4 linked regions of the Homo sapiens genome follow. The protein of the gene in region 1 purifies or fractionates together with the protein of each later gene. This does not show direct contact. Each region holds a gene or a part of one and is shown in the gene's direction. Other genes may lie near its edges.

Region 1 (3,500 bases):
TATAGTACTTGGTACATTATGAAGTGATTTTCATATGTAATCTTCATAGCAGTCCTGTGAGGTATAGGCATTTTTAAGTATCTCTGTTTTGTAGATGAGGAAAACTAAACTTAGACATGTTAAATAGCTTAAATAGACATGTTAAATCATAGAGGTAATGGCAGAGCTAGCATCATCTGAATTCACATCCTGTATTTTCTCCCCTACTGACTCTGAAAGATAGTGGATGAAAAATTGTTTAGTCACATTTGATAATCTATATTTTAATTTATTTGTATTACTGGATAGACCTTAGATGGCGTAATTAAGATGGAGAGCAATAAGCTTGGTATTTCTTTCTCAGCAGTTGACTGAATTTCCTAGGGCTACTCTGTATATAATTTTTGTGTTTTTACTTTTGTTAGGCATTTGAGAACAACCTTTTTCGTGCTCCAATTTATCTTCATAAGATGCCAGAAACTGATTTCTTGATCATTCGGACAAGACAGGGTTACTATATTCGGGAATTAGTGGATATTTTTGTGGTTGGCCAGCAGTGTCCCTTGTTTGAAGTTCCTGGGCCTAACTCCAAAAGGGCCAATACGCATATTCGAGACTTTCTACAGGTAAGAATGGGAGGATAGGGAGGGGATTGGGTTGTATACAGAAAGGGTATGTTGGGGCCGGGCATGGCGGCTCATGGCTGTAATCCCAGCACTTTGGGAGGCCGCGGTGAATGGATCACTTGAGGTCAGGAGTTCGAGACCAGCCTGACCATCATGGTGAAACCCTGTCTCTACTAAAAATACAAAAATTAGCTGGGCGTGGTGGCTCACGCCTGTGATCCCAGCACTTTGGAAGGCCGAGGTGGGCGGATCACCTGAGGTTGGGAGTTTGAGACCAGCCTGACCAACATGGAGAAACCCCGTCTCTACTAAAAATACAAAATTAGCCAGGCGTGGTGGCACATGCCTGTAATCCCAGCTACTCAGGAGGCTGAGGCAGGAGAATCGCTTGAACCTAGGAGGCGGAGGTTGCAGTGAGCCGAGATCGCACCACTGCACTCCAGCCTGGGCAACAAGAGTGAAACTCAGTCTCAAAAAAAAAAAAAAAATTTAGCCAGGCATGGTGGCGCACGCCTATGGTCCCAGCTACTCTGGAGGCTGAGGCAGGAAAATCACTGGAGCCCGGGAGGCAGAGGTTGCAGTGAGCTGAGATCAAGGCACTGCACTCTACTCTGGGTGACAGAGCGAGACTCCGTCTCAGAAAAAGTAGGCTGTGTGGGTTTGGGAGCACATCGGGAAAGATGAAAATACATTAGAGCTTAGCAAAGGAAGAGGCCCTAGTGAGGACTTTTATCCTTTTCTTTGCCAAATAAAATACACTTGGTTTGTTGGGCAGGTTTTTATTTACCGCCTTTTCTGGAAAAGTAAAGATCGGCCACGGAGGATACGAATGGAAGATATAAAAAAAGCCTTTCCTTCCCATTCAGAAAGCAGCATCCGGAAGAGGCTAAAGCTCTGCGCTGACTTCAAACGCACAGGTCGTCTGTTGTGACTAGTTATTTGTCTGCCTTTTTCCAAGAAAAGAATTTTGATGGCTTTGAGTTAAAGGATAAGCATATAGTTAATAAAATAGAAATTGATGGCTGTTGAAAGGAGGTAGCAGATCTTCTAACACTCTGGTTGCTTTTTTGAATTTGGCTGCCAGGAAGTTTAATGTGATTGTTGGATATCTTCTATGAGTTGTAGGAAACTTAGCAGCTGGGGTTTTCTTGGCCAGTCATGCCAACTGTGGCTAGGCCTGTTACAGTTTTGGTTTGCTGTCCCTGTTGCTGTCAATAAATATCAGGGCCTTTGGAATTCAGAATGGTCTCATTCTCTATGTATATGTCTTTTCCAGGGATGGACTCAAACTGGTGGGTGCTTAAGTCTGATTTTCGTTTACCAACGGAAGAAGAGATCAGAGCTATGGTGTCACCAGAGCAGTGCTGTGCTTATTATAGCATGATAGCTGCAGAGCAACGACTGAAGGTGAACACCTTCCTCTTAGACACCACTTATGCCTGTGGTTTTTTGTTTTTTTTTTTCTTCCCCCCAGAGAGATGAGAGAGAAGATTCTTTCTCTGACTGGCTTAGGGAGGATGGTTTACTAGATTATTACCAATTACTAAAAAGTTCAATTTGTATAAAGTACTTCTACGTACATCAGTTCTGGAGAAAAACTATAGTGTAGCTAAGTATCAGTGGGAAGGCATAATGAGGAACTTTGGGCATATTGTTTTGCTTTGAAAATGGTGACTGGGTGACTTTAATCTCTTCTTTGCAAGATAAGCATATAAGCAGGGAAAGTACTTGTCAGCCTCTCAGGTAGGCAGAGATGATGATGGTGCTGAATGTGTGGTTTAGAGAAGCACAGAATTCTTATAAGGCCAAAAGAGAAAAGGTCCAGCTGAGGTGTGACAGCACAGCTCTGTCCCACTGAGTTAATGAGACTCAGTTATTGAGCATCTCTGTTCAGCTTGCTTATGGGCTGTAACTATCTGTATATCAGCTAGTAAGCTCCTTGGCATGTTGTAATGTATCTTATAGCTTAAGGATGTGCCGTGGTGTTAGATATAGTGAAGACTTTATGGAATCCATCTATGCAAAATAGACTTTGGTATTCTGTACTTGTATTCAGTAAAAAAAAAACTTGTGCTTTGTGTTTTTTAACTGACTGATTTATGCATGGATCTGTCCTCTTCCAGGATGCTGGCTATGGTGAGAAATCCTTTTTTGCTCCAGAAGAAGAAAATGAGGAAGATTTCCAGATGAAGATTGATGATGAAGTAAGGCTTTATACTAGTTTGTATTAGTCATTAATACATCTCATTTATCCTTTTAAAAGAGACAGCTTTATTGAGATAACATAAAATAAACTGTACACATTTAAAGTATACTGTTAGATGTTCTTGCTTTATTCATGCCAGAAAAAATGATGCGATATATCAAATATTATATTTTATATGATATGGGTTTGTTTTTTTTTGTTTGTTTTGTTTTTTGACAGAATCTTGCTCTGTCACCCAGGCTGGAGTGCAGTGGTGGCATGACCTCGACTCACTGCAACCTTCACCTACCGGGGTTCCTGCAATTCTCGCGATTCTCCTGCCTCAGCCTCCCGAGTAGCTGAAATTACAGTTGCACGCCACCATGCCCAGCTAATTTTTTGTATTTTTAGTAGAGATGGTGTTTCACCATGTTGGCCAGACTGGTCTTGAGCTCCTGACCTCAAGTGATCCTCGTGCCTTGGCCTCCCAAAGGGCTGGGATTACAGGCATGAGTCACTGCACCTGGCAGGATTTTCATTTCTTCTAGAAAAAAGACTTTGACCTGATTTATAAGACTTCACATGATTTGGGCCTTGCATATTAATCTGACCTCCTTTCATCTCCTGTCACTGCCTGTCTTATATTCTAAGCTCCAACCATACCGAAGTTCATTCAGTTTCCTAAATTTCTCTTCCCTTTCAGAATTTTT
Region 2 (3,500 bases), on another chromosome or scaffold:
GGTGACACAAGCCAGGAAACAATCTCAGCAAGCTGGGTGGGACCGTCCACCGCCAGCAGCATGTGTTGGGGCCAGGCAGGCAAGTGGCAGTGTCCACTCCAGCGTTCTTTCCTGTTCTGTGGGCTCCCCACACACCAGGCCGTGGCCCCAGAGACTGTGCTTGCAACACTGGATTCCTGGCTTTTGAAGAAGGATCTGACCTGGAGGGCTTGGCCTGTGCAACTGCATCGGACTTATCTAGAATCTGAGGAGCCCCAGCTCACTCTGGCCTTCATTAAATAAACACTCAGTGGGAGAAGCAGCACGTGAAATGTCCGTGGAGGTCCCTGACCAGGGATGGGCTGCTGCTGCCTGAAATTGGGTTGTGATGGGGTGTAGTGGGTCAGCGTGTCTGGTTGTCCGGGGATAGCTTTTCTCTGTGTGGTGGTCCAGTTTGGATGGAAAAGGGTAGAAGGAGCTGAGACTTAACGTTTGCTGCCTGTGTGCCTAGCAGCGTGCCTGACTCTTCTCAAACTCACACACGTTCCTGGAGATCAGCAGTTTTCATCATACACATTTTCCCTCTCTAAATATAAAGGGAGGGAGGCACAATTTGAAACCAGGGTATTAATCTGTAAACAGAAGTTGTGAGGCTACTTCATCCTGGCAGGAGCTGGTGTTCTGTCTCCGCTAGACCCTCCTAGGGGTCTGAAAACTCCACCGAGGCAAACGGGAATGTTCTTATGCCCCAGTGTACTCACAGAGGGACACTTGGCCTGCCTAATAGCTGGGCCTGCAACCTATGCCAGTAATAATTACCTTCATTCCTTTGAATCTGCCCAGCGCTGGGGAGACAAGGGTGTGTAGAAGCAGACACATGTTGCCTCATGGAGATTTATGTTCCAGGGACATTGTGACTTGCCCTTTCCTGCCAGCCTACTAGTACTTTCCAGAGACAGGCTCTGCCATGCTGAGTCTCCCCACCTTGTGTTCTTGTGGAGAAAAATCCCTCCTAAGCAAGCTGGCGTGGAGAAAGGGGCTGAAGGACTTTGACCATCAGGCTTTGCTGGGGGAGGTGATGTTGGCAACTGTGGTAGGTGCAGAGTCAGGCTGTGCTGGGAGGCGATGTTGGGAACTGTGGTAGGTACAGTCTCTGCCCTTGGGCTGCTTTCCTGAGCAGTTGCCCTGGAGCCGCAGGGGGTCAGAGGGGAGGCCCTCCTGCCATCTGGAAGGTCAGAGAGGCCTGGCCCTCACACAGCTCTGCCGTGGCAGAGGTCAGAGTCCCACCGTGTGGGGGACCTGAGCTCTCCCTATGCCTCCCAGGAGCATCTGATGATGGAACTGCTGGGAGAGGGGAGGGGTGGCATTCCTGCAGATTGGGTCCTTAGGGTGTGTTGAGGCACGTTCCCTGGACAGACCTTTAGTTACTGTTGATGTGCTTACCTGGCTGGCAGCCACCTAGCAAGGGCTCTGAAGTAGGTGGGCTGTTCTCCCAGTCTTTGGGGTCTAGGGACAGTTCTAGTCTAGTGAAGGAGCCAGGCAGGGCACAGTAATGACTTTAGTAGCACAGCTTGCAGGACCCTGCATTGGGAACCCCACTGAACCCTTGGCCCATCCAACCTCCTGGTTTTTTTGTTTTGTTTTGTTTTTTGTTTTTGTTTTTGTTTTTCTTTTAGTCAGAGTCCCACTCTGTCGCCCAGGCTGGAGTACAGTGGCATGATCTCGGATCACTGCAATCTCAGCCTCCCAGGTTCAAGCAATTCTCCTGCCTTAGCTTCTGAGTAGCTGGGATTACAGGCATGCCCCACTATGTCCAGCTAATTTTCGTGTTTTTAGTAGAGATAGGGTTTTGCCGTGTTGGCCAGGCTGGTCTCGAACTCCTGGCCTCAAGTGATCTACCCACCTTGGCCTCCCAAAGTGCTGGGATTACAAGTGTGAGCCACCTCCTGGTTTTCTGGGAAATATTCCCAGAGTCTTGGGGACTTCTCCCAAGTCACAGGTCCCTGGCAGAACTGAGACTGAAACCTGGTTTTGCTTTCCCACCCAGCCACTGTCTCAAAGTGTGGCGTTTCTCTGCTTCTGCTCTGTGGCCACAGTTGTAACCCTCTGGCCAAGTGGCTCCAGCCGTCTCTGAAGAGATACAGAGCTGGGGCTCTGGCCCTTTTTTGTGTCCACTTTCACCCGGGTAACTTTTTCCCTGGTGAAACCTACCTCCCAAATGTTTCTTAGAGGCAGCCTGGAGGGAGACCCGCAGTGGCTGTGAGCCTGGGGAGGGCTGGGTGGTGCTGGAGAGAGGTCTTATCAGATCTGGAGGTGTGGTTTGCTGCCTGCAGCTATGGGAATGCCTTCTTCCACGTCAGGGTTGTTTCCTCTTCTTGGAGTGGTCTGGGCTGCCTCAAAATCCAGGAAAGTGCGCCGCAGGTATTCTACTCCTGCCCGCTGGGTGTGTCTGGAGATGGACCATGCGGAGACGCTGGCCCACGGTGGCAGTGTCTGCAATGCCGGGGAGAAGCAGCAAAGCCTGTGGCCAAGTCTCTCTAAGCTATGCCTTTTTAAAAGGCCATCCTTTCAGAAGAGGCTGGTTGAGATCTCTTTTTTATGTTTAATTCAAAGGGAAAGCTGCATAGGTGCCTTTGGGGTTAGGGGAATGATCTTGGAGTAGAGAGGGCAGACACAGATGAAGAACGTGCTTGATCACCTGTTCTATGTTGAGCACTCCACTAGGCTCTCGGCATATGTTGCACCTTAACATTCACAATGATGCTATGAGGCCTTATCCTGATGTTGCAGATGAGGGAATTGCAGCTCAGAGGGATGGAGAGACTGTCTTAGCAGGTGGTTGAACCCAGGTTGACTGGTCTTGAGAACTTATGTTCAGAACTCCACAGCTGTTGCTGTGGCGGGGAGATTCTGTGCAGGGCCATGGTTGCTGAGACCAAGGAAATGGCCAATAATAAAAAGGGCTGGGCCGAGGGCATTCCGTGGCTCAACTCTAGATGTTTGGGCTTCCTGGTGGCCACCCAGGCTGTGCAGCCTCAGGGTTCGGGCATGGGTCTGCTTCCCTAATGTCCAGGCTAGCACATCCTCAAAGACAGGACTCTCAGCACCATGATGCAGCCCGCTCTACGCTTGTCTCATTCTGAGAAAGGAGAAGCTGCCTAGAGATCAGTTTACTCATAATTTTTTAAATGGCTACCTGTCTTATTCTTTCTGAACAGTTCCTCTGATAAACAGTGTATTCTTTAACTTTCTACTTTTAATTAAAATATTTACAAAATACATAATGATATATGTTCACTATAAAAAAGAAAGTACTAGATGTACAACAGTGAAAATCACCCATAATGCCACCTCTCAGAGTTAATTCCAGTGCACATTTTGTTGTATATTCTTCCTGCATTTGCATATAAATGTACATGTGTATATTTGTGGCACATACCATGTGCATTGCCTTGTAAATGTCTTCTGTCTGTATCAGCACATATACATATGCATCAGCACTATTAGTGGCTGCATTGTGT
Region 3 (3,500 bases), 6.7 Mb from region 1:
TCTCCCCCCTTATCCTTGAGGGATTGTTCCAAGACCCCCAGTTAAATTTACAACCTTTAAAGTTAAATTTATAAACTTTCTAAATTATAAGGTTTAATTTATAAATTAGGCACGGCAAGAAATTAACAATAATTAATTAACAATTACAACAACATACTGTAATAAAATATATGTGAGTGTGATCTCTCAAAGTATCTTACTGTACTGTACTCATCTATTTTTGGATCGCAGTTGACCACAAGTAGCTGAAACTGCAGATAAGGGGGGACTACTATATATGTAACGTTTTGGGGAGGAGGGAAAGAGTATTCAGTGTGTTCATCAGATTTTCAAAGAACACCGTCAGCTAAACAGTTAGGGTCCACAAATCTAAGTCGTCTTCAAGGAAAAGCAGTTAAGGTAAAAGCTCAAGAAAGCGACAAAACTTAGTGATGAATATGTGTATGCAATCCAGAACATAAATGTAAATTCAAATGAAATTGTACCTTTACTTCATAGGATACACACACACACACACACACACACACACACACACACACAGATTGGAATAAGAATTCTGTCATAGCACAGTTTACTAATGTGTATGTCTAGATTTCATATCTTCTGAAACCTAACCACACACAATAAGCAACTAACGTAAAATACTGGCCTATTAGGGAAGTGATTCCTGACCTTGAACATAGGCCTTTGTTTAATATGTTGCATGATGAATCCAGTGCAGTTTCCCATGACTAAATTGAAATTCTAGGTTGTTAAAATACAACAGAACTTCTTCAACCTTGTACTAGATATGTTTAATCTTTATCTATACATAGATCAGAACATCACATTATATCCCGTACATATACACAATTATTGGCAGGGTACAATGGCTCACACCTGTAATCCCAGCACTTTGGGAGACCGAGGCGGGAGGATCACTTGAGGCCAGGAGTTCGAGACCAGCCTGGCCAACGTGGTGAAACCCCGTCTCTACTGAAAATACAAAAATTAGCCAGGTTTGGTGGTACACGCCTATAATCCCGGCTACTTGGGAACCTGAGGCACGAGAATCACTTGAACTCAGGAGGCGGAGGTTGCAGTGAGCCAAGATCACGCCAGCTTGGACGACAGAGCGAGACACTGTCTCAAAAAAATAGTAATTTAAAAATAAATACACAATTATTATTTGCCAATTAAAAATAAAGATTTTTTAAAATTTAATTCAACTCATTGCAGTATAAGTACCTATGTTTCTTCTATGATATAGTTGCACTTCATGCTATTGAAATTGGTATTAGAATTACATTCAGCTTTGTTGTATACTTTTTATCATATGTTTCAGATTCTGGGTAATTCATAGCTTGGTTTTGGGGGGGCTTTCTTCTCTGTTTACAGTTCCTGCAACAACTGCAGTTCAAAATGTTCTGATTAATCCTTCAATGATTGGGCCCAAAAATATTCTTATTACCACCAACATGGTTTCGTCACAGAACACAGCCAATGAAGCAAACCCACTGAAGAGAAAACATGAAGATGATGATGACAATGATATTATGTAAGGAATATAGTCTAGTCTAGATGCATTTCAAAAGGAAAGTTGGTTTTGAGCCCAGTATACTGAACTAGAATATTCTAGATCTTGTTTTACCTTAAAAGACTGAAATGTAGCTGCAGTATTTTTCGTCAGTTAAAACTGTTAGATCTCTTTAGTAAACATACAAATGTGTTTTTCAGTAGGCTTCAATTACAAACAGTTAAGTACTTGTTTCTTAATAGTTTCATTAATGTTGAGTCCTAATATGGCAATTCTGTTTTTGAGACACTTTTCTGCCTTCTATCACTGATAGTAGCATTTAAGTTTCAGATTCTACAGCCTAGTCAGCAGATTTATCTTTGACAGCATAATTTCTGATCTACATTTAAATACTACTTTATTTTATAAGGTAATATAGTTACTTACTGTCACTAGCTAATTTTTTTTTTTTTACCAAATCTCTCAATATAGGAAACATTTTTTGGAAAGGATGGATTTAGAGGAGAGATTCTAAATCCATTTTGGATGTATTTGTTTCTTTGACTTCCTTAACTTCCAAACTCAACTCCCTTTCTAGATCCCATTCATTTTCTGCACCTCCCCCATAGGCTTGTTTCTCTCCATTGCTATTAAATGTAGAAGGCCATACCTGGAATTTTAAAAATATTATTCCTGGTAATACAGCTCAGTGTCATTTTCCTATTTTTAAAACATGCTCTACATGCCTAATGTTTTGTGATTCACTTTAACCTGATGGTTTGCATTTGCTGTTTTTCACTCTTATGTCAGAGCAGTTGGGTTTTACCCCTTAGTTTTTATGCCTGTTAAGCTTTACTGTGCTTTTGACAGGTAGTTTTGGGTCAGTTATATTCAGTTTTAGTATTGTATTCCAAGTTGATAACTCTTCCATGTTTCACATTTCTAAATTTAACAGAGATGCTGTAGCTTAAAACATGTTTTGATAAGTAATTACACTGGACCTAGGCAAAACCACTGAAGAACAAGTGTTCCTTTTTACCACATACATATTATGTTTTGATCACTGCTGCTTGAGCCCCGCTATTGGTATAATTCAGATCATTTTAGCTTGTTGCTGAGGATGTCACATATAAGACAGGATCAAACCTGAAAGACACTAATGGTTCATCCTCTATAAGGCCAACAAAGAAAACAAATTAATGTGATGTAACTTGCATTTATGTGCACTCTGCATAGGTTTCCCAATAATACTGTAATGTTGCTGAACACCTTTCCCTGTTTTCCATTTATACACATATTAAAGTCATATTGGGAAAGATGGCAAAGCTTTTGAGAATATAAACACACCTGTTTTGTTTTTCTTAAGTTCAACATACTTTTGTAGAATTTGTAAAATAAATGTTCGTATCATAATTGAGAATTTATAGCCAAGGATCCTCAAAACAGAAGTTTCATCTTAGGATAGTGTTTGATATATCTAAGAAAGTCCAGTAACAGAGAAGAAATGTCTCAAATGTCTCGTATCAGTTTTAGTGTTTTTCAGTATTAGGGAAAGGTAATATAAAAACAGGTAAAATGTATAAAAATAGACCTGATCAACATCATAGGAGATAAATATTCATTATATAGCATAGGATATTATTACTTGAATGTTCTCAGGGAGGCAGCAAGTCAGAAGGCCTAGGTTCTAGTCCTAGCTCCATCATTTACCAACTGTGTGACCTTACTTCACCTCTTAGCCTTGTTCTCCTCACTAGCAGTAGGAAAGTAACACCTACCCTGCCTACCTCACAGGGCTGTTGTGAGGGTTCAATTGGTATATGTGAAAATTCTTTCAGAATTGTAAAATGCTATATGACTGTAAGGAATTATTGCATTTGTTCCAAGGTTAATAAAAATTTGAGCTTATCAGTGTTTTCATTTTTTAGGATTCAAGGGAGATGAACAAAGCCCAGTAATTCTGATGGCCAAAGACCAGTAAGATTTGTTTAATGGTTATATATCA
Region 4 (2,909 bases), on another chromosome or scaffold:
GTAGCCACTGAGTGCAGCCTTACCTTCCTCAGGTGGCCAGGGGGCCTGGAAGGGATGGTGGGTGGATCAGGGGCTGCAGCAGGCTGGGGAGCAGGAGGGGCTGCCCAAGAGGTCAATTGTGTGTATGTGCATCTGACGGCTCTCACCTTCTCACATCCTCTCACTCAGCGTGAAGGGGCCAGAGCTCATTAACATGTATGTGGGCCAAAGTGAGGAGAATGTGCGGGAAGGTGAGTGAGCAGGGAGGGGCAGGGCGTCCCATGCTTCCCAAACCCCGATGGCCCCCAAGCCACCCCCTACTCCCAGGCTACTCATGATCATTCCTAATCCTCCTTTCTACAAGTCAGGTTCCTGCCCAGCTGGGTCTAGTACCTGGGATGCCAGTGCTGTATTGTCAGGCCCCAGTTTCCCTCCCTGCTCTCACCTAACTTCAACCCCCCACAAGCCGAGCTTTGCCCTCCTGTGGGCCCCTCTCTCTCTTCAGTGTTTGCCAGGGCCAGGGCTGCAGCTCCATGCATTATCTTCTTTGATGAACTGGACTCTTTGGCCCCAAGCCGGGGGCGAAGTGGAGATTCTGGAGGAGTGATGGACAGGTAGGGGTCTGAGTGGGAATGAAAGCTGAGGGGTCCAGGGTGGGAAGGATATGAGAAAGCTCACAGCAGTCTTCAGAGTCCAGAGATAGAAGTTCCTGCTGTTTCAGTTCTGAGATAATATAATGGAAGCTGAAAGGGGCCATGAAATTGGGCAGGGTCCACTGAGGAGAATGGGGGCCTACCTGGTGGGGCACATTGGGCACAGCTGAGTGGAGGGCCCTGTTGAGACTGCCTGTAAAGAGAGGTACCACAGGCAGGGGCAGAGTCTAAGGGGGACACCAAGGACTCTTGCCCTTGCTCCCTTCTCTCCAGGGTGGTGTCTCAGCTCCTTGCCGAGCTAGATGGGCTGCACAGCACTCAGGATGTGTTTGTGATTGGAGCCACCAACAGACCAGATCTCCTGGACCCTGCCCTTCTGCGGCCTGGCAGGTGGGCCCCTTGTACTGCTCATCTCCACCCTCATTTTGTGCCTCCTTCACCCCTCATGGCTGGGCTCCCTGAAACTTATACCTGCCTATCTCCCTAAAGATTTGACAAGCTGGTGTTTGTGGGGGCAAATGAGGACCGGGCCTCCCAGCTACGCGTTCTAAGTGCCATCACACGCAAGTATGCTCTGTTAGAGGAAGACTGCGAAGGGCTTGGGCCTTGGGATGCTTAGGGGATGCATGCAACATGCAGGATGAGCTGGTCAGCACTGGCTTTCGAGGGAGGAGGTGATGCCAACTCTGTTTCTTCCTGTATCCCACAACAGATTCAAGCTAGAGCCATCTGTGAGCCTGGTAAACGTGCTAGATTGCTGCCCTCCCCAGCTGACGGGCGCGGACCTCTACTCTCTCTGCTCTGATGCTATGACAGCTGCCCTCAAACGCAGGGTTCATGACCTGGAGGAAGGTGAGCCACTTGCCGGTCTGAGAGGTCAACCAAAAAGCTAGTGGGGAGCTGGGTGCACCTGAGTCCCAGCTACTTGAGAGGCTGAGGTGGGAGGATCGCTTGAGCCCAGGAGTTTGAGGCCAGCCTGGGCAACACAGAGAGACCCCAACTCTAAAAAAAATGTTTAAGGGAAAAAAAAAACTAGTGGGAGACAAACCTAGTCCTGGATTCCAGAGGGAAGATCATTGACATCTAGGAGACCCTGAGCAGGAAGCCACCTTCGCAGGGCTCTCCCCTGCCTGGGCATAGACCACAGCCTCCCCACCTTGTCATCTCCAGGGCTGGAGCCAGGTAGCTCAGCACTGATGCTCACCATGGAGGACTTGCTGCAGGCTGCCGCCCGGCTGCAACCCTCAGTCAGTGAGCAGGAGCTGCTCCGGTACAAGCGCATCCAGCGCAAGTTTGCTGCCTGCTAGGAGCCCCCCAGGGTCTGGGACCCCGCTCAGCATGGCTGCAGGTACCTTGATAGCCCACAGAGAGATCTGGGAAGGAAGGGCTCCTCCTCAGGCTGCTGCCAACCCACCTGGAGGCCACCTCCCTCCAGGAGATCCCAGGGTGCAAAGTGGCATTGAGACAGCAGCAACAGCTCAAGAGATATCTCCTGCCTACTTGCCCCTCCTTCCAGGCCGGCTCTAAGAGAAAGGCCCATCTACTCAGGAAGAGGGCCAGGGCCTTGGGTTCTGGGGATTGGGCCCTGAGAGGGCTAGTTCTGTGGCTGAAAATAAAGCATGTCCCGCCCCCTACTGGTGTTGTGGCATGAAAGGTTGGAGTGAGAAAGAGCAGGGTTGTGGGAGGAGTAAGCCCTGGGAGAGGGTGGGGGGGTGGGCAGCATGGGAGCCTGATCCTTCTGACATAAATAAACACAATGCATGCAGGAACTGAAAAAGACTATATTGTTTACCCTTCCGTCTGTGGAACCCACATCCCTGCACCCCAGCTGTAGTCTGCTCTAGAGGCTGGCCCTGGTGTGGGGCTGCTGGTCCCCATCTTCCAGACAGAGCCTAGCAGTGCCTGGGCAGAGGCTTGTGGGAGCTGAGGCCACACTCAGTCTGTCCTCTTGAGCACGTGGATGAAGTAGCAGGGAATGTAGGTTTGGCCTGGCTTGTAAGGCTTGAAGTCGCCCAGGACGCTGTGCTGGCACTTACCTCCGAAGGCTGCTTGGAGCAGCTCCGTGAAGGATGCCAGACAGTGTGGGTAGTAGGAGAGCCGGAACTTACTGTAACAGAGGCCCCAGCAACCATGAGGACTGGTGACCTCAGCTCCCCCAACTACCGCCTCACCCCCACTAAGCCAAGTGGTACCTCAAGCCAGGAGAGCCATCCTGGCCAGCCCCCGGCACCTGCACCGTATAGTCCAGGGTCACCATGTGGGCCTTGTTGTTCACTA

Evidence for each region. The genes of interacting proteins can lie anywhere in the genome.
Region 2: the proteins of TAF1 (region 1) and KSR1 purify together in Homo sapiens (affinity purification with mass spectrometry, with the first as the bait; one large-scale study listed by BioGRID). This does not show direct contact.
Region 3: the proteins of TAF1 (region 1) and TAF9B purify together in Homo sapiens (affinity purification with western blotting; 4 studies listed by BioGRID and IntAct, with this or other methods). This does not show direct contact.
Region 4: the proteins of TAF1 (region 1) and PEX6 purify together in Homo sapiens (affinity purification with mass spectrometry, with the first as the bait; one large-scale study listed by BioGRID). This does not show direct contact.

What each region holds. Positions count from the first base shown.
Region 1 is NC_000023.11:71,386,857-71,390,356, forward strand, and holds part of TAF1 (transcription initiation factor TFIID subunit 1), read left to right. Parts: intron 1-404; coding exon 405-605; intron 606-1,380; coding exon 1,381-1,522; intron 1,523-1,881; coding exon 1,882-2,012; intron 2,013-2,728; coding exon 2,729-2,809; intron 2,810-3,500. UniProt on the Homo sapiens protein: The TFIID basal transcription factor complex plays a major role in the initiation of RNA polymerase II (Pol II)-dependent transcription.
Region 2 is NC_000017.11:27,459,448-27,462,947, forward strand, and holds part of KSR1 (kinase suppressor of Ras 1), read left to right. Parts: intron 1-3,500.
Region 3 is NC_000023.11:78,129,651-78,133,150, reverse strand, and holds the end of TAF9B (transcription initiation factor TFIID subunit 9B), read left to right. Parts: intron 1-1,377; coding exon 1,378-1,541; 3' UTR 1,542-3,403; downstream 3,404-3,500. UniProt on the Homo sapiens protein: Essential for cell viability. TAF9 and TAF9B are involved in transcriptional activation as well as repression of distinct but overlapping sets of genes. May have a role in gene regulation associated with apoptosis.
Region 4 is NC_000006.12:42,963,365-42,966,273, reverse strand, and holds the end of PEX6 (peroxisome biogenesis factor 6), read left to right. Parts: coding exon 1-32; intron 33-168; coding exon 169-230; intron 231-484; coding exon 485-593; intron 594-905; coding exon 906-1,022; intron 1,023-1,121; coding exon 1,122-1,199; intron 1,200-1,344; coding exon 1,345-1,484; intron 1,485-1,802; coding exon 1,803-1,939; 3' UTR 1,940-2,409; downstream 2,410-2,909. Other genes in the region: GNMT (glycine N-methyltransferase), read right to left, coding at 2,568-2,739, 2,825-2,909; CNPY3-GNMT (Glycine N-methyltransferase-like isoform 1 precursor), read right to left, coding at 2,568-2,739, 2,825-2,909. UniProt on the Homo sapiens protein: Component of the PEX1-PEX6 AAA ATPase complex, a protein dislocase complex that mediates the ATP-dependent extraction of the PEX5 receptor from peroxisomal membranes, an essential step for PEX5 recycling.